5 linked regions of the Homo sapiens genome follow. The protein of the gene in region 1 interacts with the protein of each later gene in a pairwise test. Each region holds a gene or a part of one and is shown in the gene's direction. Other genes may lie near its edges.

Region 1 (6,074 bases):
GGGGACAACTTTTCATTGTCCTTCTGCCAGTGAGAGTATTTGTAGTTCAGTCACCTCTCCCCAGCAACCTATCCTTTCTTCTCCCAAATTACAAATGGGCTAATTTTTTAGGGGAGAGGTCACCATATTTCTGGATGATGACAGTTCCTGTCCTGTGTGTGAGAGAGAGAGGAGTTTGTGTATGACAGAGGGTGTGTGTTTTATGCACACACAGGGAATTCATGAAATCTCCTCAGTGGCAACAGCTGAGCAGCCTCTCATATCCTTCCGTGGGCAGGGGGGGGCATCCCAGCTTGTGAGTGGGATCCCCAAGACTTCTTCACTCGGAAGGCCACTGGCTACATTGAAGGTAATGATGCATGTTAACTTTGTGCTAGTAAAGCAAACAGCTTATACTGTCTCAGGCTGACATTGGGACTTGACAAACCCATCAGCATCTCTGGGTGATCATTTCAGCAAAGATGCAAAGGGAATAGAGGACAGGGAGGATGACCTCCAGCAGTGAACTGGCCTTGACCCCTCCAGTTTGACAGACTGTCCAGCCAGCCTCTTTTGGTGCAGAACCTTCTTACAAGACAGCTGCAAACGGGCTGCTCCAGGGCTCTGAACCTAAGCTTGCACTGGTTTGCACAGTGACTACCCATGCTGAGTTCTGAGTTACAGATATTTCTACTTTCCAGAACCCCGTTTCCTTCTCCTTTCCAATTTGCTAAAGTGGATATTTATTGCAAGGAAAACAGTACTGAAAGCTTTTATTGCATTTATGCAGCACTCAGCCAATAAAACCTCAACTCAGAGGTACCATATTTTATGTAGACAGGGATTTGGCTTTGACAAGATTCTCCCCAAACTGATTTTCAGTGGAAGGAGCCACTTCTTATACAACTACTCGCTAAATTTCCAGATTTTAGGACCAGTGTATGAAATATACTGGGATAGATGTCAGTGAGATGGACAATGTAGTTTTTTCTCTTTTTTTTCTGGGGCCGCAAAGGACTTCAAGGCAGGTAAGAGATGAAACCGCTATCTATTTTCAGCAATATTCATTTGGGGGCTGAAGAGCGGCTGCTGCTGTTGTCGATGATGACGATGTTTTTGCAAATTAAAAAACAAACCAAGTAACTTGACAAAAGCAATTAGAGTTGGTTGGAATTTTCAGAAACAACAAAGAAAGTTTCTTCTATTTTCCTAGGCTCGGCTGCCAGTCATTCTCCCGTGGTTGCTTTTCATTTAGTTGAATAAGACACCTTGTCTTTAGGTGCTGCTTTCACTTTTTCACATCTTTCTCTTTCCATCTCTGGAGCAACAAGCAAATCCTCCCTCTTGCCAAATACGAGACATTTCCACTCAGTGTAAAGCCCTTCAGACTCAGATATTTTTCCCTGTGGTACTTAGCAAGGCATCTTCTCAACAAAAAGAAGGTTCTCCCCACAAGTCCTTCATATATACCAGTTTAAGAGAATAAACATTTCTCCATTCCATTTTGTAGGTCTTGCTGAACAGTGTTTCCCCTGATTCATCATCGTTTCTGTCCACTGTGTCTCTTTGTCTTAATGTTATATGCCCTTCGAGGCTGTTTGTTATGATTTAAACATGTCCCCCAGATTCCATCTGTTGAAAACTTTATCCCCAAATTCTTGCTGATGCTTTGTGGAGGTGGAGTCTTTGGGAAGTAATCCAGATTAGATAAGGTTATCAGGGTGGGAACCCCATGATGAGATTGGTGGCTTTATAAGAAGAGGACACTCCTGCTGCCACCTCATGTGACGCCCTCTGCCATGTTATCAGGCAGCAAGAAGGCCCTCCCCAGATGCCGGTGCCATGCTTTTGGCATCATGCTTCCCAGACTCCAGAACTGTGAGAAATTTATTTATAAATTACCCAGTCTGTGGTATTCTGTTAAAACAGCAGAAAATGGACTAAGATACCCTTTCAATCACATCTCTTGTGTAACTCTTTCCCTGATTTCCCATATTAGAAGAAGTTCTTTTCCTTTGAGTTCTCGCTTATAGTGGTTATTAATACATTTTTGGCACATATTATGGCTGTTTTGGAGACCTCTCTATTTAGAGCTTTATGAGGACAGACAATCGTGTCTTATTTCTGTATCTCTTAGCACTTAGCTTTGCATCCAGGAGGCATTTGATAACTTTTTGTTGAATCGACTCTCTATTATATTGAGCTTACTCTAATGACCGGCAGTATTTCTTGTGGGGACACTATTGCCATTTTGAATGGGACAGTTCTTCATCGTGTGGGATTGTTGCATCATTGGAGAAGACTTGTGTCCTTGGCGTGTGCTTAACTAATGCCTGTAGCCATCCCCCAACAACTAAAATATATCCTATGCCTTTCAAACTGACCCCTTGGAGCAGAGGTAGGGGAGAGGGAGAGCCATGAGAAAAGACAGTTTGAGGCATTGATTAAGCAGGGTAATTCCTATTTATTGTACAAATATTAGCTTTAAATTAAGGAATAAATCTAGACATTTTGTGTTCCCAACATACAAAAATGGTAAATACATGAGGTCGTGGATAACCTAAATACCATCACTTGATCATTACACATCGTATGCAGGTAGCAAAATAGTACCTGGACCCCATAAATATGTATAAATATTATGTATTAATTTTTTGAAAGTTAAAATTCCTTGGGAAAAAATTTTAGACATTTTGGTAATTTCCTATCATGAACTTTGCATTTGGCTTTAGTGCTCATTAGGGCACCCACAGTTTTAATATGAGCTATTTGGGATCTGAGTGTCAGAATATGGGATTCACAATGGAAGACTCAACAGCAACTGAGGCAGAAGTTCCTCAATCAACATTTGTTGAGTAAATTAATGAGACTTCTTAAAGATAAAATAAGAGCTGGAATAGGGCTGGGCACCGTGGCTCATGCCTGTAATCTCAGCACTTTGGGAGGCTAAGGGAGGTGGATCACTTGAGGTCAGGAGTTTGCATCCAGCCTGGCCGACATGGTGAAACCCCGTCTCTACTAAAAATACAAAAAATTAGCCAGGTGTGGTGGCGCACACCTGTAATCCCAGCTACTGAGGAGGCTGAGGCAGGAGAATCGCTTAAACCCAGGAGGCGCAGGTTGCGGTGAGCCAAGATCGCACCATTGCACTCCAGCCTGGGCGACAGAGTGAAACTCCATCTCAGAAAAAAAAAAAAAAAAAAAAAAAGCTGGAATAGAGTCTCAGACATTTACAAATGACTGGCAGTCCTCAGTGGTGTCCCATGGCTCCTGAAAGGAAGGGAATATGAAAGCCAGTCTACTGCCAGTTTAAGATGGGAGCATTTCAAACCTCACACAAGGAGAGCTGGAAAATTGCACAAGGTCTGTGATAACAGAAGTTGCCATGGAAATTTCTCACCCCATGTTTCTCTCTATATAAATCCATCCTTTGGACCCTCTTTGGACAGTTTCCTTGCAAACCAGCAACATTTATAATACTTTGCTATTTAAGGCTCTCCATTGTAATGCTGAGTTATTGGGTCTTTTTTTTTTATTTGACTTTGGATTTTTGTCTCCTCATTCAGCCGCCTCCTACAGAGAGAGATGTGTAATATCATTTAAGTCATGGCTCACTTGACTGGATTGCTGATGGCTACCTTTTCAAAATTATCTTAAATATGAGATTCATTTGTTCTGATAGTTTTATAAAACATGGATCAGGGAGGAAAGCTGGGTAGGCCAAAGCAGTCTTATGGTAGTTCCTGGTTAAAATAACTTGTAGCTGTTACAAATAATGCCATTGGCTGCCAGCATTCTCTGGCGCCATATCAACTGGGAGAAATGTGATTGACACAAGTTGAATGCATTAGTATCCCTAATGTCAGTCTTAATCTGATGTCTTTTGGGATTAAGACAGTCTGTTTCTTCTGTTAGTCATCTTATTTGCTAAACCATTAAACGAATTCACTGCATGTTTACTGGATGTCAGGAGTTGGTAGCAGTTTTAGAAACCTTCTCTAATACAAAGATTATTAAGACCCAGCCCTGACTTCAAGAGTTCAAGGTATAGTTGAGGAAACTGACAGAGAACAGAAAACAATAATAGAATTAAGATGCACAGTGGTGTAAATGGGCACAGGCTTACAGCAGCTCAGAGCAGGAGCACTCGAGTGATTAGTAAGGGGAGGGAGTGGAGAGTGGTTAAGGAATGCTTCCAGAGGACTGACTCCTAGACTCTGAAAGGATCCATGGAGTTAGAGTTGGATGAGGCTGGAAAAGGCATTGTAGACATAGACACAGAGGCCAGGGACAGAATGGTGAGTTCAAGGAGTAGGAAGCAGTTCTCATCAATAGACGACGAAAGAATTTAGATGTGACCCGAATTTGAGGGAAGATGTAGGGATCAGACTGACAAACCCCATGGGAGCCTTATCACAGACCTTGGTTTAGCTGAAGGTTTCATAACATTGGCTGGTCTATAGGAGGCGCCCAGTAAATATTTGTGTAAGGGAGAAGGACGAGCAGCGGGACATGATTGAAGGGTTTCAGCAAAGGAACTGCGTGGCCAGATTTTCTTGTTTTTTTTTTCCTGCATGTTTACAAATGTTACTGTTTTTTATTGTATGTACTATACATAAAACACTTGAAGAAAACAATTTTTAAAACCCCACCCAATTCTAACCCCTGAGTTAGATTTGGGATATCACAAACGAAACATTTTACTCAGTGTACATTCAATTTTACCTCAGTCACTGTTGCTGTAGTGTGAGTTTTTCTCAACTCGTTGAACCATATGATTGAAACGTGATGTTTCCTTTGCCTTTCATTCACTTTTTGTATATACGACCATGGCTATGATGATAGGGAATATTTATAGGGTGATTCAATTTAGGAAGCAATAGATGAAGCCTAATAGGTAAAAACAAAAAACAAAACCCAAGGACTACAAAATTGAGTAAGACCTAAGTAGTCTGTACCATCTTTGGAATCTTAGAAAACTCAGATAATGTTACATATTCATTTTTTTTATTTTATGGAAGAAAATGTAAGGTTTAAACTGGGAAATGATTTGTTCAGTGCTACACTTACTACTACGCAGTGTGGAGGGGGTTAGTAATAAAGCTTCATTCTCAGGATTGAAGTAACAAATTATTTACCTAGGACAGTGCCCAGCACATGATGCTTACTACATAGTGATTTTCTTCTTCCATTTGTGATTAGAGTTTCCTGAAGGGAAAAGTAGAGCTCAAATGGTGAGTGTCCAAAAAAAAAATATGACATTAGAGATTTCTCATAAATTGTGGAAACATATTTAGAGAATCTATCAAAACTATAGTAAATCTCATCTTACGTATCAAAGCAGAATAATTGGTCTTTGGTGGAGGTGGTCTGGCTGATGTTTGGACTCGGCAAGAAAGATTGCTACAACTGTTGAATAACATTTGGTTTGTGTATAGAAGTGTTGGTCCATGATGACATCTACACAGATTATTTTCCATTCTTAAATTAACATTTTCTATAGGCAGTCTTTGTTCTAATACATGCTCCTCTGAAATTGAAGCTGAAAGTGTTATGACCAGTTTCACTTTAAATGAAGGTACCTTTAAGTCTGAAATGAGCCGGTGCTTTCAGGTTTAGGCTGTTGAATACAAATACATACAAGTTTGATTTTTGTTTTTGGCTTAAGATGATAAAATTACTTTTAACGGGGTTTTATTAAATTATATTCAATAAATAACTAAATTGTGATTTCACAGTTAAATTCATTATAAAAGTCCCTGCCCCATTCTTAAGAATGGATAAGTGTAAAAGAAATGTAATTTCATTTACCTTTTGAATTAAGCTAAAAGAATATTTAGTAACCTAATTGTGATTTTTAAAAAAATAATTTCAACTTTTATTTTAGATTCAGGGGGCACATGTGCAGCTGTGTTGCATGGGTATATTGCATGATAGTGAGCTTTGGGGTGTGATGAATCCCATCACCCTGGTAGTGAACATGGTACCCAACAGTTTTTCACCCCTTGCCCTACCTCCCTCTCTAGTAGTGCCAGTGTCTGTCATTGCCATCTTTATGTCCATGAGTACCCAGTGTTTAGTTCCCACTTATAAGT
Region 2 (6,074 bases), on another chromosome or scaffold:
CAGAAATCTTACTTTGAAATTTGTGTTTCTGAATAAAGCCACCCAGCTCATAATTCAACAACAATAAATAAACTTGTTGGTATTTGCTTGATTTCATGTTCATTTGGAGTTATCACTGTTAAGTTTTGAGTTATGATAATGTAATATGTTTTAACTACTTTTATATGTGTTAACCTTCAGCAAAGGGCTGATAGACTTTCTTGTTTACTTTTTATTTTGTATACTTGCAGATCTGCTATTACTAAAACATTTTTGATGTTGTGGAGCATGATGAGAAACTGACTAGTGTTTCTATTGCGTAGCCAATTCAGATTATATCATAGTTATTCTATGGAAGTGAAGAATAATGAAAAGAAATTACAACAGTGCTTAGTACTGTGGGTGACTTTTATGAAAATGTTTATAGTTTGCAGTACTGCAGTAGAACCTACAAGTAAATAGAATATTTAGTTGTGCCTGCATGCAACATGCAGCTTACTCTTGAGTAGTTTTCCAAATCAGAATGAGGTGATTAATATAAAATGGTTGCATGTTTTTCTTCTTGTATTTTCTATATTGCAATATTGATGAATCTGTGTTGTATACCAGAAATAAATGAGATTAAAGGAAGATTCCAAAAAATCTGCAATATAATTCGACACTAATGGTTCAAACATTTGTCTTGAAAGGCTTTTTGATACCACATTGGTAATCAGCTGAAGACTGACAATAAGTTACAAAAATAACAAAACAATTTTAGATTGGCTAGCATTCCATTTATCTGTCAAATCTCTTCCTTCAAGAAACACATTCTTGTTGTTTGGAGGTAAGTATATTGGTATGCTTCCTTTGAAAAGTTACTTAGTCTTGACAGAGACTAAGTAGAAATATAAGTTAATTTAGACATAAATTAATTCACCAAAACCAAGGTTGCTAACTGGCAACAAGTCTGCCAATGTGATATGTTTGGCATGCTGTTTTCAAAACATTTGAATTCCTTGCAAAAAAAAGTAGTTGAATTAGGGTTTAAAAACCAATAAATTTTTTTTTTTTTTTTTTTTTTGAGACGGAGTCTCACCCTGTCGCCCGGGCTGGAGTACAGTGGCAAGATCTTGGCTCACTGCAAGCTCCACCTCCCGGGTCCACGCCATTCTCCTGCCTCAGCCTCCTGAGTAGCTGGGACTACAGGCGCCCGCCGCCACGCCCGGCTAATTTTTTGTATTTTTAGTAGACACGGGGTTTCACCGTGTTAGCCAGGATGGTCTCGATCTCCTGACCTTGTGATCCACCCCCCTCGGCCTCCCAAAGTGCTGGGATTACAGGCATGAGCCACCGCGCCCAGCCAAAAACCAATAAATTTTACATAGAAAATCCAGATTTCCTGTTTCTCTTGGGGTAAAAAATGGGAATATGTGACACTGCTAAACTACCTTTCTTGTATCTGCTGGAATTTAGGAACTGCTGATCTAAAAAACTATTCATTTTAAACAGTTCCACCTATCAGTAAACACATAGTCTACTTTACTCTTTACTGTTATCAGTCTAAATCTTCTAGGCATATGAATTTGCAACACCTCCTCTAAAAGTACATACATAGTCATTTTAGAATTATGGCAATAGGCTTAATGTGTTTTCTCAGCTGTAACTGTTAACCACCCCTTTAATTGAAGGGTATATATTACATTGTGATATTTCTATTTTAAATGCTTAGTTCATTTCTTGTAACATTTTGACTTCTTGATTGGTAGTATAGTTTTTTAAAAAATTGATCTTGAAAGTAGGGAAAGGAAAAATTAGATCAATATATTTTGATTTTATATGTAGCAATTATAAAATAATTTTAAAAAGAAGTTGCCTTTATATATACAAAAGATTCTTCCTTTCTATTTTTGTTCTTTTTTAATTAGGTGGGTTTGGAGGATTTGGGACAACATCTACAACTGCAGGTTCTGCATTCAGCTTTTCTGCCCCAACTAACACAGGCACTACTGGTAAGAGGCCATCTTAAGTCATTCATAGAAGTAAATGAAGTAGAGGTCAGATTTTTTTTTTTTTTTAACTTACGAAGTTCCAATTTTTCATTCAAAGGACTCTTTGGTGGTACTCAGAACAAAGGTTTTGGATTTGGTACTGGTTTTGGCACAACAACGGGAACTAGTACTGGTTTAGGTACTGGTTTGGGAACTGGACTGGGATTTGGAGGATTTAATACACAGCAGCAGCAGCAAACTAGTAAGTATGAGGTTTTCAGCTTCAAATACAAAACCGTGATGATACTAGCTGACATTATTGAGTGCATTCAGAATACTTTAGTGGACTTTTTATAAGAATTATTAATATATTCCAAAGGATTAGGAATGTTACTTTTCATGTTTAAATATGATAGCAACTGGGGAGAACACTGATTGGCACAGTTAGGATTATAAGGTCCCTGTGTTTAGGATCATTCCATTTAAATTTTTGTTGTTAAAAATAACAAATAGAGAAACTGCACAAAAGTACAGCTTAATGAATTATATATAAGTTTACAAAGGTTAACACCCTTGTAATCACTGCCCATGTCAGGAGATGGTTCCTGGCCAGCCAGTTCAGAAGCCTACCACATTTCCCTACCAATTGCTTCCCCATCAGAGGACCTGCAGTCTTGGCTTTTATGGTGATCATTTTCTTACTTTATATTTTGTCATTCAAGTATGTAAACAGTATTTGGTTTTGCCTGTCTTAAATCTCCATAGGCTCCTCTTTTATCTCTCTTTTTTATTTATTTTTTATTTTTTGAGACGGAGTCTTGCTCTGTCGCCCAGGCTGGAGTGCAGTGGCACGACCTCGGCTCACTGCAACCTCCGCCTCCCAGGTTCAAGCGATACTTCTGCCTCAGCCTCCTGAGTAGCTGGGACTACAGGCGCACACCACCACGCCCAGCTAATTTTTGTATTTTTAGTAGAGACGGAGTTTTACCATATTGGCCAGGCTGGTCTGGAACTCCTGACCTCGTGATCTGCCTGCCTCGGCCTCCCAAAGTGCTGGGATTACAGGTGTGCGCCACCGCGCCTGGCCTCTCTTTTTTATTTTTTAATTTGTTGAAGAAAACAGATCATTTATCCTATAGAGTTTTTTAGTCAAGACTTTTCTGATTGCACGCCTATGGTATAGTTTAACACATTCCTTTGTTCTCTGTATTTCTTGATGATTGGGTTAGATCTGGGGCGTACATATATATATTTTGTTGTTTTGTTGTTTGTTTGCAAGACTATTTTATAGGCCTATTTTTTATCAGAAGACATATAATATCTTTTTTTTTTGAGTGATCAGCCATTGAGCCATTGGTGATCATTACCTAGATCCATTAATTCATTAGGGGTTACAAATAGTGCCATTCCACCTGGATTCATTTATTTGTTGAAATACTTCTGTGAGGAGAAACTTGACTTCATCTGTTTGGTTGATTCTTTCTCTTTATTACTGGTTTTCAGAATAAAGAGTTGGTTATCTAGCATTCTCCAAAGATGACCAATTTTTTTTTAATGTCAGAAACTGCAGCCTTTAAACTAGTTACTATTTTTTAATCCATTGCAGTTACCATTCTTATTGATGCTTAAATTGTTACATCTTTGGCCAGTGCAAGCCTTTTCAAGTTGGCTCCCAAGTCCCTTTGAGACAGTCTGGTTATTAGTCTTTGATGGCTTCCTTACTAACCATCCTTACTAGGTGGTATGGCAGTAGGTTCCAGGGGTTGTTCTGTATGGATTAACTTATTCTCACAAGAACCCTGTGAAATAATACTTTTGTTATCCCCATTTTATGGGTGAAGAGAGGAACCTGAGAGATTGTGACTTACCTGTATACCTCTCTAGAAGAAGTACAGGGATGCAAATTCAACTACTCATTCTAGTGCTCTTTTCACTTTTCCAATCTGATGCCTCTTAAAATTACTTCTGTTTCATTTTTTTAAGTAACTTGATTGACTAGCTAAAATTCATCCTACTCAGTCACTGAAGATTAGTTATTAACTTATTAAACATGAATTTCAAGGATTGCCTAACAGTAGGATGAAGATAATAGAATAGTATTCTCAGAATTATTCTTTCAAGTATTCCAGTCATTCGTCTTTTCTACAATCCTGCAAAAATACAAAATTTGATGAAATATTTAAGTAGTTAAGGAAAGAACAGCAAAAGTGAAGTGTTTCCTTTGTTTCTTGAAATAAAGTCTCTCCAACTATGAGTAACTGTAGTTACATTTGGTTTTTTTAGGAAAATGGGAATTTGAATCTGGTGCTATTTTAAAATTGAAAGGGGCTCATTTTGTTATGTAATATCCATTTATTGTATATATCGTATGTCAGGCATTGGGTGTACAAGGTTGAAGACCACAATCCTTGCTCATAGTCAAGGAGATTCTAGGGTATCCACGCAGAGGAAATAACATGGCATGGTTTATGGCAGAGTATAATGCCTTTGGGACCAGTATAACTAGATCAGTGCAGTTTTTTTAATGCATAAATGACCTCAGGGTCAGTAGTGAGAGTTGGAGAGATAGATATGAATTGGATTATTAGCGTGCCTTATATGTTTTACTAAGGAGCTGTCCTTTAAGCAATTCTAAACTGTTGTAGGATTAAGTAGACAGGAAAATAATCAGATTTTTAGAAGTATCTCTTAGAGAAATACAAAGATAGATTATAGGTGGGTTGGAATGGAGGCAGAGATCTGGTGAAGCTGTTGCCAAAATCTGAGCAAGATATAGTGAAGACCTGAATTAAGGCAGTGACAGTTAAGAATGGAGAGAAAAAACAGGATGTGAATTTGAGAGAGATTTAACTTGTAGAATCAATAAAAGCGAATGACTGGATAAAGGTATCTTGGGCTTCTGGGTGGCGTAACTGAAGGATCCCTTGCTCTTCACTAAGATCCAGAATACTAAAGCAAGAGCAGATGTTTGTGGGTAGATAATGAGTTTGAGGTGTCCCTTGGGTAGTTGTATATATTTATGAAAGCCATCAGAACGTAAGTAGTATTTAAAGTGGTAGATATGGATGATGTAATTTAGGAGACCTGATTCCAGAGTAAGAGGAGAGTACTAGAACAAAACTCTTAGAAACACTAACACTTAAATGCTGCCATCTCCTATCCCCAAGCCAAGTAGGATTTTGACCATAAATTAGCGAGCAGCATTGTTAGGACCACTGCTTGTCCTATCTCAGTATAGAGATGCCCGTCCATGTATTCCTCATACTTATTAGCTCCCTTTTACTAATCACAGCTATTCCTATCTCAGTTGGCAATACCTGTGAATCAAGGGGAAAAGTCACATTTGACTTTGTGACAACCGCCAGAAGTCCTTTCCAAGCCAAAGCATGGATTATCGAGGATCCTTCAGAAGACTGTTGGATCTTTCGACAACTGATACTTTCTGCTCTGTTAGCTCTTTCTGTCTTCACTACTCTAACTAGCTTAGATTCCATGGCCTTCCATTTCTATATCTCTTGCCAATATGCTAAACTTCCTTGTTTTTGTGTCACATTTGCCTGAAAAAACCCCAAGCCTTTGTAAGCCCAACTGTCTGTGTAGATATTGCTTGAGAAAGATCACACATTATGGAAGAGGGGATAATACCTCTCTAAATTCTTGATCACCAACCTCAGGTCTCAATGTTGCCTGGTAATCCTGTGAAATTTCTACTTTCAACTTATTCTCCTGCTTTCTATAGCAGTAATTTTAAACCTTTATTCTCTTCAAATCTCAAATTTATCTGTTCTTACTTTTAGCAGATGGCCTTGACTGCTACTTCCAAGACAAAAAAGGGCTGAGCGCAGTGGCTCACATCTGTAATCCCAGCACTTTGGGAGGCTGAGGTGGGCGGATCACCTGAGGTCAGAGACCAGCCTGGCCAACATGGTGAAACCCATCTCCACTAAAAATACAAAAATTAGATGGGCGTGGTAGTGCACACCTGTAGTCCCAGTTACTCGGGAGGCTGAGACATGAGAATTGCTTGAACCCCATAGGCAGAGGTTGCAGTGAGCTGAGATCGCACCACTGGACTCCAGCCTGGGTGACAGAGCAAGACTCTGTCTCAAAAAAAAAAAAAAAAAA
Region 3 (6,074 bases), on another chromosome or scaffold:
TGTCCCTTGAGGAGCTGGCTATCCTTAGGCATAATTTCTTTTTTAATTAAAATGTACTTTTACAAAAGGACATCCTTCAAACATGATTGAAATGTTCCAATGAGTGAAACTCTGAATATGGCAGAGATATTTTGCTAAACCACTCATCTGCTTTTCATCTATGCATGAGACCTGGATGGCTGAGGAGGCACTGACTAAACTCTCTTTTCTTAATAACAGGCGCTAACATTAGATTTGTTGATTTTGGCTGCAAGTTCAACTTTTGGCTAAAGCCCTTGGAAATCTTCCTTTAACAGAATGCAGAGTCTGGATGAGCCATGGACGGAAGAGGAGGGAGATGGCTCAGACCACCCATACTACAACAGCATCCCAAGCAAGATGCCTCCTCCAGGGGGCTTTCTTGATACTAGACTGAAACCCAGACCCCATGCTCCTGACACAGCCCAGGTAAGTCTTATAGTTTTTTTCTTATATAAGGAATGGAGGCTAACTCTACTTTATTTCCTTTTGTTTTCTTTGGTTTTATTTCAGGCTGATGTTCTGTTTCATTTTTGACACAGTAAATCATGAGCTTTCTCTCACTGGATTTCATGAGGCATGCAGATGAAGAGAGGCTTTGGGTTAACATCATAAAGCATTGGCCAAATGCTTTGGAACTGTGTGGTGATTCCTGGGATATGAGTCTGGGGGTGTCCTCTGTACCCTCAGACATATTCCATCATACTGTGATCTCAGTGAGGGAAAGAGAGAATTTAAGATTTTAAAAAGGCTTGGGAGGCATTGGGTTCTCTGAAAAGGAGTGAATATAGACGCTTAAAATGATGAGAATTTTATGAGTTTTCTATTTTATTCATTCCCTTGTTTTATGTCCAACTCAAAATTCTAGTAAGGCAATTGCTTTCTAGAGTTATGATATTTCTGTTTTGTTATAGGAAATTTTTTAACGTTACTACCTTATGTGAATGATAATGACACCACTAAAAATGGCAAAATAACGTTGAGCTCAGGGATCTGACACTGAGAGGGAATTTCCTGATTTTTTGAAGGAAATTTCCTGGTTTACAGAGTGGACTTGACCAAGTGTGAACGATCATGGGCGTATGTGTTATGTGGGAAGTGTGTTCTGACACATAGATACTCTGTAATTGAAATTTATTTTAGGACATACATATGGAAGAGCTTGATTTACAGTCACACTTCGGGAGGGGTGGGGGGGGTAATGAAAACAAGCGGGGGGGCATGTGTAGTTTTGATGGAGATGCAGCCTTTTCCTCACACCCACACAAACTTATTTCCCAAATCTTAATGCCAACCATGAGGCATGAAGGGAAAATTGGGTGTAACAGAGGATGCGAACCACCTTAAGGATCAACTCGCCGACTGTCTTGTGGCTTTCAAAAGTGGTGAAATGAGAAGAAAATAATTTTTTCATTCTGTGTATTTACATGTGTCTATAGTTTGCAGGAAAAGAGCAGACTTATTACCAGGGAAGACACTTAGGAGACACTTTTGGCGAAGACTGGCAGCAAACACCTTTAAGGCAAGGTGAGAGGCAAGGTGAGATGGGTGAGAAACACAAAAGACACTTTTCAAAAGTAACATGCTCACCACTGGGTCGCCTATTTTCTGTGGACTGACAGAGTGACCCCTGGATATATGTGCTGTGTGTGTTGCTATAGAATCCTGACTAGACTATAGAAATAGAAGCAACGGTGTGGTCAGGCGCGGTGGCACACGCCTGTAATCCCAGCACTTTGGGAAGCTGAGGCGGGACAATCACCTGAGGTCAGAAGTTCGAGACCAGCCTAACATGGTGAAACCCCAACTCTACTAAATAAAAAAATTTGCCGGGTGTGGTGGCGGGTGCCTGTAATCCCAGCTACTCAGGAGGCTGAGGCAGGAGAATCACTTGATCCCAGGAGGTGGAGGTTGCAGTGAGCCAAGATGATGCCATTGCGCTCCAGCCTGGGCAACAACAGCAAAACCCCATCTCAAAAAAAAAAAAAAAAAAGCAACAGTGTTGCAGACATCTCCTGGCACCAATCAGATAGTGCCTCCCTGCAGCTCCAGGACCATTCACACCCCGTCTGCAGTCACTGCCTCATGCCCTTGAGACTGTACACCTCCATGCTGGGAGAGCTTCCATGCCCAGGGGTGCTGAGAAGTTGACATCTCAGGCATACTTCACCCCAGTTTCCTATGGGAACTGGTGAGGCAACTCTAAGGTGGAGGTTGAGCCCCCGTGACTCCTACAACAAATTGTTGCCTTTCCTTCCTTGTCTCGTTCTCCTTCCCTTTACTCAGGGTCAGCTTCAGGGGGGATGTGAAGCCCCCTACTCTAAGCTGGGGATTGAGGCAGAGGTGGCACCAGGGATATACGTCTCTCACAGGCCCTGGATACTCTCAGAGAACACTTCTGCATCTTACAATCATAATATGCACCTACATCACACATTAAAACTAATGTCGATATAACTGTCTATAAGTCAGATATCTGCAAATAATTCAAATATATTTAGATACAGCCATCATAATTTAGATACAACTATCTAAGAAGTAACTGCTAATTGCTCACATAAGTCTTTATTCTCTAGACAGTTATATATACACATACAAATATGTATGAATGTATTCATATCTCAATCTAATCCTTTAAGAATGTCTTTTAATTTTAACCTTTTTCCCTTCTCAAAAACATTTATAACTCTTTCACTAGCTCTGGGATCCTGGCTACTAAGTCTATAAGATCTGAAGGGGATGGATGCAACTGATGCTTCTATGTATCTAAATTTAAACATTATTGGTTTAATGTTGAGGCTTATTCCTTCATTATAGCTATTTATGCCAGGAAGCAAATGACAATACATTTTTAAAATGTCCTCTGTGTAAGAGAATTTCGTCTCGCCTGCCCCAGATGCAGGAAGACCCACAGTGCTGGCCCAGTCAATAAAACATAAGGCCTGGCAGAAGCCACCACATGTTCTGCCTCAGAATAGGCTGGAAATAGCAAATCAGAGTCATAACTTTGCCAGAGGGACATTTTCATTATGGGCTATTTATCCTTGTTCTACACACATTTAAAATGCATTTCCATAACATGTGTGTGCATAGACATATAATAACTGCTAAAGAATAAAGGAGACACATTATTTCCCTTAGATATTTACTTTATTGTAAAATATATCAGGTTTATTTTAAAATAGGCCTTGTTTTTGATATATTCAAGTTATTCCAGCCAGATCGAGAACAGATGATGTCGCAGAATGAACTCCTGGCCTGGAACTTGAGACTCAGAGCTCTCAATAAATTTCCAGCTCTTCTTTGAAAACAATAAATAGGCAGGGCATGGTGGCTCACGCCTGTAATTCCAGCACTTTGGGAAGCCGAGGCGGGTGGATCATCTGAGGTCAGGAGTTCGATGCCAGCCTGGCCAACATGGTGAAACCTCGTCTCTACTAAAAATACAAAAAATTAGCTGTGCATGGTGGTGGGCACCTGTAATCCTAGCTACTCGGGAGGCTGAGGCAGGAGAATTGCTTGAACCTGGGAGGTGGAGGTTGCAGTGAGCCGAGATCATGCCACTTGCATTCCAGCCTGGGTGACAGAATGAGACCCTGCCTCAAAAAAAAAAAAAAAAATAAATAAATATCTTTTCTCACATAACAAATTAGAATGTCACTTATTAATTTGCTGGCAGATACTGTCCCTAATGGAAGTGAACTCCAGGTATCACGATGGCACGTGTCCTCCTGCCCCGGCTCAGCACCTGTTGTCATCTATGGTGGGAAAGGGCAGTCAGGAAGATTATGCATTTGGGCTCTTGATCTTCTCCTTTTAAAATTTTTTAATGAAATTCTTTTCTAAAGGCTGATTCGTTTGCAATGTACACAAAGGTGTAAACTGCAAATAGCTGTCACTAAGCAAGGATGCGTAATCTGACTAGACTCTTCAATGTAGAAAGCATGTTGAGAAATAGGAGAGTAGAAACACAGTCCATGATGTTGCAGGTGGTGCTCCCCAGCGAGGGAATGTTAGCACGACACTTCATTCTCACACCTACAGCCTGGGAGACAGTGGTGTGCTGGCAAATGTCCAGCCACAGGCTCTTGGGAACGCTTTTTAAAAAGCCCTGAACCAACTCCTGCCAGCTGGATTGAGCTGGCTTCAACACACCACCGCCCATAGGGTATGAAAGACACCCTCTTTCCAGAAATGTGAATACCACAGGGTGTTCTTGCGAACATGTTTACGTAAGAAGATTGGAGACAGGGCGCACACACAAAAAGACTCCGAGAAGGATCTGAACAGGCGTTCTCCGGCAACTAGGTCTGGGTGTCACTTTCACCCAGGGTCTGGGTGACAGAACAGCCCGGGCCCAGCCTCAGCACACCCACTGGCTAGCTGTGAAGTCCTGTCAAGGCACTAGGTCTTTCACACTAGGTCTCGGTGACAGAACAGCCTTGGCCTAGCCTCAGCACACCCATTGGCTAGCTGTGAAGTCACATCGAGGCAGCATCACTGCCTCAGCAGAGGGGGCTCTTCACTTGCACACCCACCCTGGGCTTCCTTCACAGACCCAGGGGCAGTAACTGCAGCCCTATTTTATAAGGAAGGAGTCTCTCTCAGTTCCTTAGGAGGTACAGAGCTTCTATTGTATTGCTTGAATGAAGTTAATTTATAAAGCATTTGCTTATATTTAAAAAGAAAACAAGAGCAATTAATATAAGGCTTGTGGTCCTTCTGCTCAGTTATTTGATCTTGGAGCATTTGTCAAGGAGAGGAGGTCAGGCATGTTCTGCCTGCCAGGCTCCTGCGGTCTTGGGGCAGCAAGGGCCAAAATTTTTGCTAAGGCCATCACAGTGGAGCCATCAAGGTGTCCACCCTGACATTGGCTGGCAGACCCCATGCTGATATGAAGGACTGGAAAACATCCTAGCTGGGTCACAGCAGTGTGTGGTGACAAGCTCAGAAGAGGAGAATATCACCCATAGGAATCCGAAGGAGGAGGTTTCCCATTTGCAGGCAGAAGAGCTTCTTTGTGAAAGGCTGGGTGGCTTGAATAGTGTCACCATCGTAAAAGAAAAGGGGCTCACTTTCTTGTTGCAGGGTCCTCGGACATCTACAGCACGCCAGAAGGGAAACTGCACGTGGCCCCCACGGGAGAAGCACCCACCTACGTCAACACTCAGCAGATCCCACCACAGGCCTGGCCGGCTGCGGTCAGCAGTGCTGAGAGCAGCCCAAGGAAAGACCTCTTTGACATGAGTGGGTTTCTGTTTGTCTCTGGTTTTCTTTTCTTTTGAGGTTGCTTTTTATCCTGCCTTTTATTTGAAATCTGTGTAATTACTGAATTTTCTGATAGTAGGGTTTTGGTTAATGGTGATGATTAGCTGTACTTTTCTGGGTGATGATTGGGTTTGTTTAAGGCTTTAGGATTATAGCCCTCTCTGTAGTCAAGAGACAGAGCAATTTCCCCCTCTTTTTGGAATTGACGTTCCTCTTGAAGATCTGCAAATGTATTGAGACAATATACATACACAAATGTTTATTTATTCATTTAAATAGTAATTGGCTATTATGTGCCAGCTACTGTATTAGTTGCTAAGGATGCAAAGATGAAATGGCATGGCCCGTGTTTCCACGGATCTCTAGGTCTATGAAGCAGACCAACATTTAACATATAGGCAAGAAATTGCAACACACCTCTCTCTTATGAGGGTTTTCTCTCTCTTTCTCCTCTCCTCCCACTTGTGCTCTCATTTTTTTCTCTCCTTTTTTCTCTCTTGCTCACCTTTTACCTCACTCCAAATATTTACTGAACACTTACCATTTGTCAAATACTATTCTACTTGATGGAGATATACAGGAAAACAAAACCAGCAAAGTCTCTACCTCGTGGAGGTATCTATTACCAGGTAGTGGTACATGCTCCTCAGTTATGAAAACTAAACAGGATAAGGAGAGTAATAGGAATCTATTGCAGATAGCATTATAGTGGGATGTGTACCACAGACTTTCTGTTTGTCATATAGACTGAGGAAATTAAATCGTTCATGAACTGATTAATGAAAGTG
Region 4 (6,074 bases), about 130 Mb from region 1:
GACACCTCTCACCAGGCCCCACCTCCAGCACTGGGGATTACAATTGAGCATGAGATTTGGGTAGGGACAACTATCTGAACTGTATCAGCAATAGAGTGTGATTATAAGTTATGCTGTAGGAATAGAATTGTTGTCACTGAAAGATTCCCTTGGCCATGGGAGCCTCCTGGCTCTATGAAGGAATCAGCCAATGCTTATCCCAGGGAGGTAATGATAAGGTCGAAGTTTGACAAGAAATCTACGTTTTCTTAAGCTAAGTAGTAGGTTAACAGAAGATATGTTGTGTGTTAATAGTTCTATTTACATCTCTTTCTCCAAGGTTATACACACTCTGCATCACTAAGTCAAGACACCATTCTTTGACACTGGCTAATAGTAATAGCAATCATAGCCACTGTGCATTAGCACTTACTCCACATCCTTGTACTGAGCACTACTTACATTATGTGGTGTTGTCATTGTCACCATTTCATACATAAAGAAACCAAGGTTTTCAGAGATTGAATAACTTGTGCAAGATCACACATCTGGTAGGGCAGATCCAAGATCTGTTTGTCTCCAAAATCTGCTTCTGTCCTGCCTGGGAGACCTTGGGAATGACGGCAAGTGGTTGTAGGAAGGAGGGCTGATGTCAAGGTGGCTGTGGGGGCAGGAGGCTGAGGGAACTCACTGACCCTTGAGGGACTCCTTAGGTGGGGGATTCTGGGTTTCCTGTTGGCAGCTGGAGGGGGAGTGCCAGTTCCCATAAGTGGTTATTGCCCAGGTTGTGACCTTGGCTTGGCCAGTGATTGGTTCATTTTGGAATTTCATGAGTGACCCCCAGGCAGGGTTCTTACAATCACGCTGGAAGACCACCCAGGAAGTTCCTGTGGGGTAAAATGATGCAGCAGCCTGCTTTCCTCAGGAGGTCTGAAACCCTCCCCATGTACACACACACACACACACAAACACACACACATCCACCCACACACCCTCCACCCCTCTTGGTGTCTTTGGCCTTTTTTCCTAGCTTGTTTGTTTCTATGGGTGTCTTCAAGTTCAACTAGAACCTATGGGAATGACTTAGTTTTGAACCTGTAAGAATGAGAAGTAAACAATTCTTTGTACTGACTTTGAATTTCCTTTCTTCTGTTGTCCAAAGGTGAAGGGTGACAATGTGTCCCAGATTTTTTTGGATATTCTACAAAAAAATAGATATTTTTTTGTAGAAAAAAGCTTATTCTACAGTGTTGTCCCAATTTTAAAAGCCCTAGAAAACTGGTTAAGGCAAATTATAACCAAATCAAATCACTAATTATTACAATAAAGTGTAACTAGCTACAAAAATCCTAAAATTACAATTTTAGGCTTTGAGAAAATATCACTGATGATAGAGGAAGAGTGACAGTCTTTGTTTTGGGTCTTGGGATGGCAGAAAGAAAATATTTAGTAGGGAGTAAAGATCAGTGTACCCCTTGAAGTGTGGTGAAGATGGGTGGGTTTTGATGCTCTGTGTGTGTGTGTGTGTGTGTGTGTGTGTGTGTGTATGTAGAATTTCCCTAAATTCAAAATGATACTTACATTTTGATAAACCCAGAGAGTTAATTAACATGGCATAAATGTGCTAGCTCATTGTTGTTTTTCAGGGAAAGAACTAGAGAGAGACACAAGTCACCCCGGAATAAAGACGGCAGAGGGTCAGAAAAGTCTGTCACCATTCAACCTCCCACTGGAGAGCCCCTGTTGGGAAATGATTCTACTCGGACAGAGGAAGTTCAGGTAAGGATCAAAGGTGGTCTGTAAGCACACTGCCACTTGGCCAAGACTCCTGTCTGTAAATGTTTTCCTTAGGTTCTCTTGGATTTTTGTCTTTATTTTTCTAGCATGCTAATTAGTTTATCTATGTCCCATGGTCTCTTGTTGGTCTAAGGACAGCCTGTCCTGCCCTTTGGTAGCGTGGGGATTCTTCTGAAGTATGATTGGTTGGCCTGCTTTACATGGTGTGGAAAAGTAGCCAGCAAGGTTGACGACAGGGTTGGGAAGGGAAAAGCTGAAGTCTCCCACGACTCATTTCAAAATGGAACAGTATAAGGGGGAGAAGGAAACTCAGAAAACCTAAGAAGTTTAAAAAACATGGGGCAGCCCAGACTGACCATTACTACTAGAGCTATGCAGGAATTGAGAGGCCGCACGCTCAGATGCCTGGTAGAGAAACGTAAGTTAATTAAGGAGGCCCTGGGTCGAAAAGAGGGGGCAAAAATATATTAACCTAGCTTTGGGTTAACAGCAATCTGTGCAGTGCCTCAGTGTCAGTGCTGTAGTGTGGTGTGAAGGAGCCTATGGCTAACTGGAGAATGCATTTCCTCTGTAAAGGAAACAGCAGCTCCGCAGCTCCAGACACCTACTGTTGCTCAGGAATGCAGGGATTCATTGTTTGAGAAAAGCTGCAAATCAGGATTTTATGTGGAATCCTAACTTTACAGTATTTTTGAAATACTGATACTTTATTAATTTTTTTGAACCATTGAGTGGGTTCTTCTCCAGGTTCCAACTGTCTGGCAGCCCACCTGATTTAAATAAACATCTGAGCTATACACAGAAACATGTCTGCATACCCTCTGCACATCCTGAAGTATATATACACATGTCCAGCCTTGCCCCTCATAAACAAAGTGGTGTATGATACACAGCTGTAAAGATAGATATAGGACTATAGATAAGCATACATCTGTACATACCTGTGCATACACACAGGTAAGCATTTATAATCAAATAGGTGGACTGAAACTGGAATTCCTCAGAGTACACAAGGTGTTCTTGGGACACAAAACTACAATTGTGGGTTGAACGTGGGATTCATTGAGCAATGAGCAAATGCCTTTAGTGCTGCCTGCCTTGGCTCTGGGATGGCTGATGGTCGGATGGGGCCAGTCTTAGGATTGGATCACCCTGGAGTACTTGAAGGGGTCAGTTTCCTCCTGGATGTGGGTTCAGAGGTGCCAGTGGCCTACAGCAAAGGCTCTTCTTTCTCTGCATCTCCTCTGCACCTCGTAGCTGAGAACACTTTGAGAAGCTCTTGGTGTTGCCCCAGGATGATCTGGTGTGAAAAGCATTGAGATGGGTGTTTGGAGGCTGTATTTTTTAGTAGCTCTGTTACCTTGAGCAGTCACAGCCTTTGTAGGCCTCAATTTCTTTATTGAAAATCTAGGGGTTTTGATGAAAGCATCTTAGGTGCTTTTTCTTCTAAGAACCTGAAGCTTAACAGGATCCTTTGTGTATCTACATGTTTTAGGCATACATGTGCACCCCAGGAAATTCTCTCATGCCCTTTCTAGTCAATCTCTGCCCCACCCTCACCTCTCCAAGGCAACCACTGTGTTGATTTCTATCACTGTAGATCAATTTTGCCTGTTTTTGAATTTAGTATAATTAGAATCATATGGTCCATCTCCTGCCCCCACCCACCCGCCCTGCTTAGCATAATGATTTTGAGATTTATCCATGTTTTGGTATGTTTCAACAGCTTATTCTTTTTATTTTTGCTGAGTAGTATTCCATTGTATCAGTCTACCACAATTTGTTATCCATTCTCCTAGTGGATGGACATTTGGGTTTTTTTTGTTGTTGTTTGTTTGTTTTTTGAGGCAGAGTCTTGTTCTGTCGCCCAGGCTGGAGTGCAGCGGCATGATATCACCTCACTGCAGCCTCTACCTCCCGGGTTCAAGCGATTCTCCTGCCTCAGCCTCCCGAATAGCCGGGATTACAGGCACGCACCACCACGCCCAGCTAATTTTTGTATTTTCAGTAGAGATGGGCTTTCACCATGTTGGCCAGGCTGGTCTCGAACTCCTGACCTCAGGTGATTTGCCTGCCTTGGCCTCCCAAAGTGCTAGGATTACAGGCGTGAGCCACCGTGCCTGGCTGGATGTATATTTTTATTAATTTTTGGATAAAACCTGAGAGTGGAATTGCTGGGCCATATAGCTAAGTGTATATTTAGATTTATATGAAACCGCCAGAGTGGTTTTCCAGAGGCACTGTACCACGGTCCACTTCCACCAGCAGTGTTGGAGAGTCCTGGCTGCTTCTGGCCATCGTCTGAAATAGGAATTTCTCTCACTGTAGGTGATACTTCTGACTTTGCAAGTTGAAGGATTATTAGTTTATGGGATTGAGACCTTCACCACCACCGCTTCTTACCATAGCCCATACATTTCATAAATCATGGTTTTTTTGGTCATTACTAGATTCGGAGTTATTTGATGATGAGCGATGTCTGTCTTGCTGATTTAGCTACTAACTGAAACTAGCTTTTTCTAAGTTGGTGTCCTAATTTCACCCCCTTTGCCACTGCATCTGACTGTTTTCTTTCCGAGTGAAAGGATACATACAAATTTCAGAGGCAGAAACCTCTTTGGCCTCCTGTGTCTTTTCAGCGCCTTGCTCTTATTGCTTCATTATTGTTGCCAGTTGTTTTTAAACAACAAAATCCTTTAAAATTCTATCAACTGGGTTTTGCTAAGTGAATAGACTAATTGCTTTAACTAGCAACGGCCTAGAAGTTTAAAAAGAGAGGAAGCTAGAAAGTAAAAGATAACATTTTAATAATCCTGGTTGTTTCTATGCCCTTGATGTTTAGTTCCTCGTGAAAACATGTTTTAGAAAGAATTTTTAAGCCAATCTGGCCATACACGGATTCCTGGATTTGCTTAGCTTGGTCCATGAGAAATATTGTTAAAGAGTGCTTGACACTGATGCTTGTTAAGTGGATCTTGTGAACATCATAAGGAGATTTTTTTTTTTTTTTTTTGAGACGGAGTCTCACTCTGTAGCCCAGGCTGGAGTACAGTGGCACGATCTCAGCTCACTGCAACCTCCGACTCCCGGGTTCAAGCGATTCTCCTGCCTCAGCCTCCTGAGTAGCTGGGATTACAGGCATGTGCCACCACGCCTTGCTAATTTTTGTATTTTTAGTAGAGACGGGGTTTCACCATGTTGGCCAGGATGTTCTTGATCTCCTGACCTCCTGATCCGTCCGCCTCGGCCTTCCAAAGTACGGGGATTACAGGTGTGAGCCACCGCGCCCCAGTCCATAAAGAGATTTTAAAATGTGGGTCCTAGCTACAGGTAAGCTTGGGTTTGTGTAGTGGTGTAAGTTCCCTTGCTACGCCCTTTGCTCTTCTGGGCTGCTAGAGGGTGTAGTAATACTCCCACCTCCAAAAGTTGGACTTCGTAAGCCTTTATAACCCAGCGTGAATTGGAAAGAAGATGCAGGAGGTTTATCTCTATAGATGAGCTCTCACAAGATTAGTCTAATACCTGGGTTGCGCATTGCAGGGCAAACAGCTCCAGGCCCTCAGAGCTGCTCAAGGCTTTTCAACCCAGGGGATGATAATCAATGTTATGTCAATGAATCAGCCAAACAGACAGAAAGATCACATTATGTTTTCTCTGTTTGAAAAGGTAAATACCTCATACATTTTGAAAATTTCAATGAAAATCGTTTGAGTTAAGAAGTTCTAATATTTAAAGAGTTAAGCTTTCATTTTCTGGAAGCCTTTGTGAATAGGGCTGGGTAGATGCAGCGGGCCCTGCATGTTCACTGCCCTTTGTAGCTTTTACAAATGACCTGTGTCATGTCATCCTCACTGTCTTCTCCCCACCAGGATGACAACTGGGGAGAGACCACCACGGCCATCACAGGCACCTCGGAGCACAGCATATCCCAAGAGGACATTGCCAGGATCAGCAAGGACATGGAGGACAGCGTGGGGCTGGATTGCAAACGCTACCTGGGCCTCACCGTCGCCTCTTTTCTTGGACTTCTAGTTTTCCTCACCCCTATTGCCTTCATCCTTTTACCTCCGATCCTGTGGAGGGATGAGCTGGAGCCTTGTGGCACAATTTGTGAGGGGCTCTTTATCTCCATGGCATTCAAACTCCTCATTCTGCTCATAGGGACCTGGGCACTTTTTTTCCGCAAGCGGAGAGCTGACATGCCACGGGTGTTTGTGTTTCGTGCCCTTTTGTTGGTCCTCATCTTTCTCTTTGTGGTTTCCTATTGGCTTTTTTACGGGGTCCGCATTTTGGACTCT
Region 5 (5,043 bases), on another chromosome or scaffold:
TGTCAGTCCCGGCCTGAGACGCTCTAGCATTAGAGCTGTCCAAGTCCAGACAGCAGGGAGCAGGTGGGGATCGGGAGGCGCGGATCTGGGGGGCAGCTGGGGCCAGGCTGAAACAGAGCGGGCGGGACAGGAAGCACAGGCTGGGCAGCCTCCCCGGCCAGGGAGGAGCCAGGCTGGGCCACCTCCCGGTCTGTCTGCCGACTACCCGCAGTATCACTTACAGGGATGGATGACATCCCAGGGCTGCTGCCACCCCCACCTGTGGGGAGACACCAGACTGGGGGTGGTGTGGAGATACTCTTAGAGAAGAGGCTGCTGGGCCACGGGCTCGGCATGGCAGGGCAGTGGCTAGGTAAGTACTTGAGGGACAGGTGGGGTCTGCTTGCCACCGTCCCCTCTGCAGGCTGGGCCTGGGGGCTGCTGCAGGCGGCCAGGGCAGAAGGGTGTGGGGAGAGTGAACCCACAGGAGCAGCGGCTCGAGGAGGGGGATGCAGGCTGCAGGCTCAAAGGGGCACTGGATCCACCCTGGGTGCCCGAGAGAGCAGGGGGCAGCCCCTGGAGGGGTACTCACCCCCAGAGCTTCTGTGGTCGGCTGAGGACCCCCAGCAGGGGTTGACTGAGGGGATCAGAGGCAAGCAGCTGAGGGGAGAGGCCAGGTTCTTGATGCTGATAGGGTCGGGGTGCCTGGGCGACCAGAACTCAAGGAGGGAGGCATGGGGAGGGGCCGCCGTGCAGCTGGGGTGGGTGCACCGCAGAGCCTCTGGGAGTGGTCAGAACCCCCGACACCTGCCACTTCTACAGCAGCTCATCTGATTTTAAGGGGCTTGCTGCCCTTGCAGAAGTGGAGGGGTGTGCCCAAAGGAGCCTGCCTGGAAGGTCACCCCATCAGGTTGGCATGACCCCAGCCCAGGACTGCAGCCTGCCCTCAAGGTCTGTGCAGTATCTGGGGTGAGTCCTCTGAGGACAGGGCCCAGGGTGGGTGTGGAGTGGCCAGCTCGGGGCTCGGTGTCCAGGCTCACCTTCAGGGGCCACAGCACAGACCTGCCCTTCCAGAGTCTTCCCTGAGCTTGGCTGGGGAGGAGGGGGCTGCAGGAAGGAGCTGTGAGCAGGGCAGGATGGAGATTCGTGTGGCCCTCCTGGGAGGGGCTGGGCAGGGCTGGGAAAGGGGTGGGTGAGATGTTCCGGAACTCAGGGAAAGGAAGAGTCTGGGTACTGCCCTGGGGGCACCTGGGCCCAGGTGGCAGGTGGCCAGCTTTCTGCCTCCTTTCCACCTCCTTTCTCCAGAAGGCACCCACCAGCTGTGTAAATAGGGCAGGTGCCCACGGCCCGCCTCAGGCCCCGTCTCCTCCCCACCCACGCTCTCTAATCGCGGATTATACACAATCCAGCCTGATCCCTGGGCAGCTGCCCTCCCTCCCGCAGCCACCTCTGGCTCTGAGAGATGGGCTTGGGGCCAGCCTGGGGTCCCAGGAGTCCAGGCCAGGATGAGAACCTGCTCTGACCCCACCTGGACGCATTAGGCCTGCCTGGACCTGTTGCCTCACCCCAAGAGAGCCACAGGCAATGCAAAGGCTCCTGTTCATGTCAGGGCACCTGGAAGGCCTGACTTGCAGAGGCTCTTGGCTCGTGCAGACCCCTCCAAGCCCAGGCCCTGCCCACCACCTCCCCTTTGTCTCTGGAACTGCCAGGACAGCTTGTCCTCAGCCAGCAGGTTTCCCGACCCGGGCACCTCTTCATGTTGGGCCCCCCTCCTTTCCCTCCATCAGGGATCATGCCCTTCTTCAGGGGCCTGGATATCAAGGACACAAAAGCTCCCATGTGCTATGTGGGGAGGCAGAGTGGGGGCTGGGTTGAGCTGGGGTCTGGGCAGCGCCATTCCGCAGGGCAGGGGCAGCCTAGGCTTCCCATCTGTGGAATGGGTGGGTGGGTCTCACAACGGACCTGCTTCCCGTACTTCAGCACGGTTACCACTCTTGATTGGAACTCTGACCATGCATCTCCTCTTCTGTTTACTTCACGCTTTCTCTTCCCATCAACTCCCATTTTAATTACAATTTGTTTAAAAGCACTGCATATTACTTCATTAAACAGAAGATTAGTTTCACTTACCATTAGTGTAAGGTGACTATAGAACCAAAGCAGACTGGAAACCAAATGACATAATGTCATTCTCTTCTCCATTCCAGCTGCCTGCTGCTGTGCGCCTGAGAACCCCTGTGGAGTGGGAGGGGCAGCTGTCTCTGTACATTAGAAAGGGAGGTTAACTAAGTGACAGGAGGTGTTTGGGACATGTGGACACCAGACTTCTCTCTTGATGCAAGGAGGGCAGAGCCAGGCAGCCTAGTGGGGGCTGGCTTGGGGGCTGCTGGAAGGACTGGCTACAGGTGGAAGAGAGGTCAGACCTGAAGCTTGGGGCCACCTCCAGGAAAGGACAGGTGAAAGTGGAGGCATGAGGCAGGGGAGAGGCAGGTGCCAGGCAGAGGGTGGAGAGGAGGCAGGAACATAGCAGCTGGGGCGGGGGCGGGCCTCAAGTGTCATATGCTACTTTCCTGGGGCCCAGGGGCAAGGACAGGAACAGCCACAGCATGTGTTGGGACAGAGCCCTGTGCCTTCCTAGAGCTGGGCAGGTGGAATGGGGCAGGAATGGGACTCGTGGTGGCTGCAGCAGGAACTGGAGGGGAAGGGGCTTCTGGATCCTGCAGCCTACCTTCCTAGAGGCCAGCTTTCCGGGGTCCACCAGGTGGGTGGGAACTGGGCTTGTGTAGCAAGACTGCCCTGAGGACCATCCATGACATGGTCTAGATGAAAGTTAGGAAAGAAAGGGAGACAAGCTGGCAGCAGAAGTACAGCTGGGTCAGGAGCAAGGGCCTTTCCAGATAGGGACAACCCAAGAGTGCACATGTGCCCACGCCACACAACACAGGCACACACGACACGTGCACGCTCATAGGCACTGCACACACACATGCACAGGTGCTCATGCATATGTATGAGCTTCATCTACACACATTCACATGCCGTCCTGCTTATGTGCATGTTTCCATACATGCACATGAATGCACAATCACGTGTACACACATGCATGTGATCACATACATGAACATGTGTGCACCCCACTCCTCAGGTGCCATCGGGCTCCTCCTGCTGTCACTGTGCAGCAGGGGACATGAGGCCCCAGAGCAGACAGGTGCAGCACAGGCGTTCCCAGGCAGTGCCCCACACACATGCATGAGCACACCCGGGCATGTGGCGCCTCCTTTGTGGACTCAGTCACCTGCCAGGTGGGCTCCCTGGTGGTGTGAGCTCCCAGAGGTCTGGCGAGAGAGATAAAGGCAACCCCACCACCAGGCGTGCTGAGAATTCCCTCTTCTGGCTGGGCACAGTGGCTCATACCTGTAATCCCAGCACTTTGGGAGGCCGAGGTGGGCAGATCACTTGAGGTTAGGAGTTTGAGACCAGCCTGGCCAATATGGTGAAACCTCATCTCCACTAAAAATATACACACACAAAAATTAGCTGGGTGTGGTGGTGTGCACCTGTAGTTCCAGCTACTCGGGAGGCTGAGGCAGGAGAATCGCTTGAACCTGGGAGTCAGAGACTGCAGTGAGCCGAGATCATGTCACTGCACTCCAGCCCGGGTGACAGAGTGAGACTCCATCTAAAAAAAAAAAAGAATTCCCTCCTCTGGGAATTTAGACCACAGACAGGTTGCATGTATGTGGCCGTTGGAGGCAGCACTCACAGCAAAGAGTGGAAACGTCACCACAGGGCCTGCCTTCTGGTGAAAATGGTGTCCTGCAGGGCGGGCAGCTGTTTGAGGGCAGGTGTCCCAGGTGCGGCCTGCAGCAGCCTGAGGGTCACAGAGCGCAGTGCTGGGAGTGCAGAGACTTCCCCCACAGGGAGAGTTCCCAGGAACCTGCTTCCGGTGCACTTCTGGGGGTTTGAGTTTTTTCCACGGACGAATTACTTTGAGAAACCACTGTTACTCGTGTGTATAGGTGAGCGTGCGTGTGCATGTGTGTTCTGTGTGTGAGTGTGCATGTATGTGCGTGCCTGCGTATATATCCTCGCAGATACGGCTAGGGACCTCACTCAGGACAGTAGTTCTGCCTGAGGAGAGTGAATGCGGCAAGATTGAGGAGAACACAGGCATCTTCAAACTACATGTGCGGTGCTTTATTTCTTTAAAAATGCGTCTAAAGCAAATAGGAAAATGTTAAGATTTGAATCCGTAGAGTGTGGGTTCTATTATTCTCTCCACATCTTCCATACGTTTAAAATCTTTTGCAATGAAAATAAGCTGTAGTTAAAGCAGCAATGCAGGCTGCCAGTGAGCGCCCCGGAGGCCAGTGAGGACCAGCATGGCTGGGTGGCCTGTTGGAATCCAAGGGGGGCGGGCAGGAGCTGCAGGCAGGCGCCCGGGAGTAGCCCGGGCATGGGGGTGCGGGGCAACAGGGATGTCTGCAGGGGTAGCATGTGGGCCCCGGACTGCAAGCAGGTGGAGCCAGCCGGATGCGGCTCCTATGAGAAAAGCGGGGAACAAGAGACCACGCTCGTTCTTCCTGCTGCGGGGACAGCCCTGGTCATCGCTCCGGGGAACCCTGCAGCCTGCGCCGCACGTGGCCGCCCCCTGCTGCTTCCTCCTCCCCGGCCTCCGGGTGGCCTTGCTGACGGCTCCTTCTCTGAGGCAGGTCTCTGCCTTCTCGCCTGGTGCCTGCACTCAGTAGCCCCCTCACCAGAGCTGCTGGGTGAAGGAAGCACTAAGAACCCAAGGCTCGGGAGGAGAGTGGGGCCGGGAAGCTGCAGGGAAGCGCAGGGCCAGGCCTGGTGGGCCCAGGGGCTGGCTCACGGGAGGGCAGGAGGGAGACTGTGGCGGACAGCACGTGGGGCCAGGAGGTGACCTCCAAGTGGATTGTGGGTGGGTTTTTTGTCCTCTTTCTGCATTTTCCAGGCATTTTGTAATGTGGATAGAATATTTCTGTTCTTCAAAAATACTTTAGTTAAGAAAAATAAGATGGAAGCTGTTGCACTTGAAAATGAGGA

What was found.
Region 2: the proteins of SMYD3 (region 1) and NUP54 interact in binary tests that used the Homo sapiens proteins (3 or more experiments, as listed by UniProt).
Region 3: the proteins of SMYD3 (region 1) and SHC3 interact in binary tests that used the Homo sapiens proteins (3 or more experiments, as listed by UniProt).
Region 4: the proteins of SMYD3 (region 1) and VANGL1 interact in a two-hybrid assay, tested with the Homo sapiens proteins (one large-scale study listed by BioGRID and IntAct).
Region 5: the proteins of SMYD3 (region 1) and CAMK2B interact in a two-hybrid assay, tested with the Homo sapiens proteins (one large-scale study listed by BioGRID and IntAct).

The regions. Positions count from the first base shown.
Region 1 is NC_000001.11:245,921,769-245,927,842, reverse strand, and holds part of SMYD3 (histone-lysine N-methyltransferase SMYD3), read left to right. Parts: intron 1-6,074. UniProt on the Homo sapiens protein: Histone methyltransferase. Specifically methylates 'Lys-4' of histone H3, inducing di- and tri-methylation, but not monomethylation. Also methylates 'Lys-5' of histone H4.
Region 2 is NC_000004.12:76,140,286-76,146,359, reverse strand, and holds part of NUP54 (nucleoporin p54), read left to right. Parts: exon of another isoform or gene 1-805; intron 806-1,886; coding exon 1,887-1,970; intron 1,971-2,067; coding exon 2,068-2,211; intron 2,212-6,074. UniProt on the Homo sapiens protein: Component of the nuclear pore complex, a complex required for the trafficking across the nuclear membrane.
Region 3 is NC_000009.12:89,041,217-89,047,290, reverse strand, and holds part of SHC3 (SHC-transforming protein 3), read left to right. Parts: intron 1-296; coding exon 297-447; intron 448-1,457; coding exon 1,458-1,545; intron 1,546-5,106; coding exon 5,107-5,265; intron 5,266-6,074. UniProt on the Homo sapiens protein: Signaling adapter that couples activated growth factor receptors to signaling pathway in neurons. Involved in the signal transduction pathways of neurotrophin-activated Trk receptors in cortical neurons.
Region 4 is NC_000001.11:115,658,016-115,664,089, forward strand, and holds part of VANGL1 (vang-like protein 1), read left to right. Parts: intron 1-1,625; coding exon 1,626-1,758; intron 1,759-5,645; coding exon 5,646-6,074.
Region 5 is NC_000007.14:44,221,072-44,226,114, reverse strand, and holds part of CAMK2B (calcium/calmodulin-dependent protein kinase type II subunit beta), read left to right. Parts: intron 1-223; coding exon of another isoform or gene 224-352; intron 353-801; coding exon of another isoform or gene 802-899; exon of another isoform or gene 900-930; intron 931-5,043. UniProt on the Homo sapiens protein: Calcium/calmodulin-dependent protein kinase that functions autonomously after Ca(2+)/calmodulin-binding and autophosphorylation, and is involved in dendritic spine and synapse formation, neuronal plasticity and regulation of sarcoplasmic reticulum Ca(2+) transport in skeletal muscle.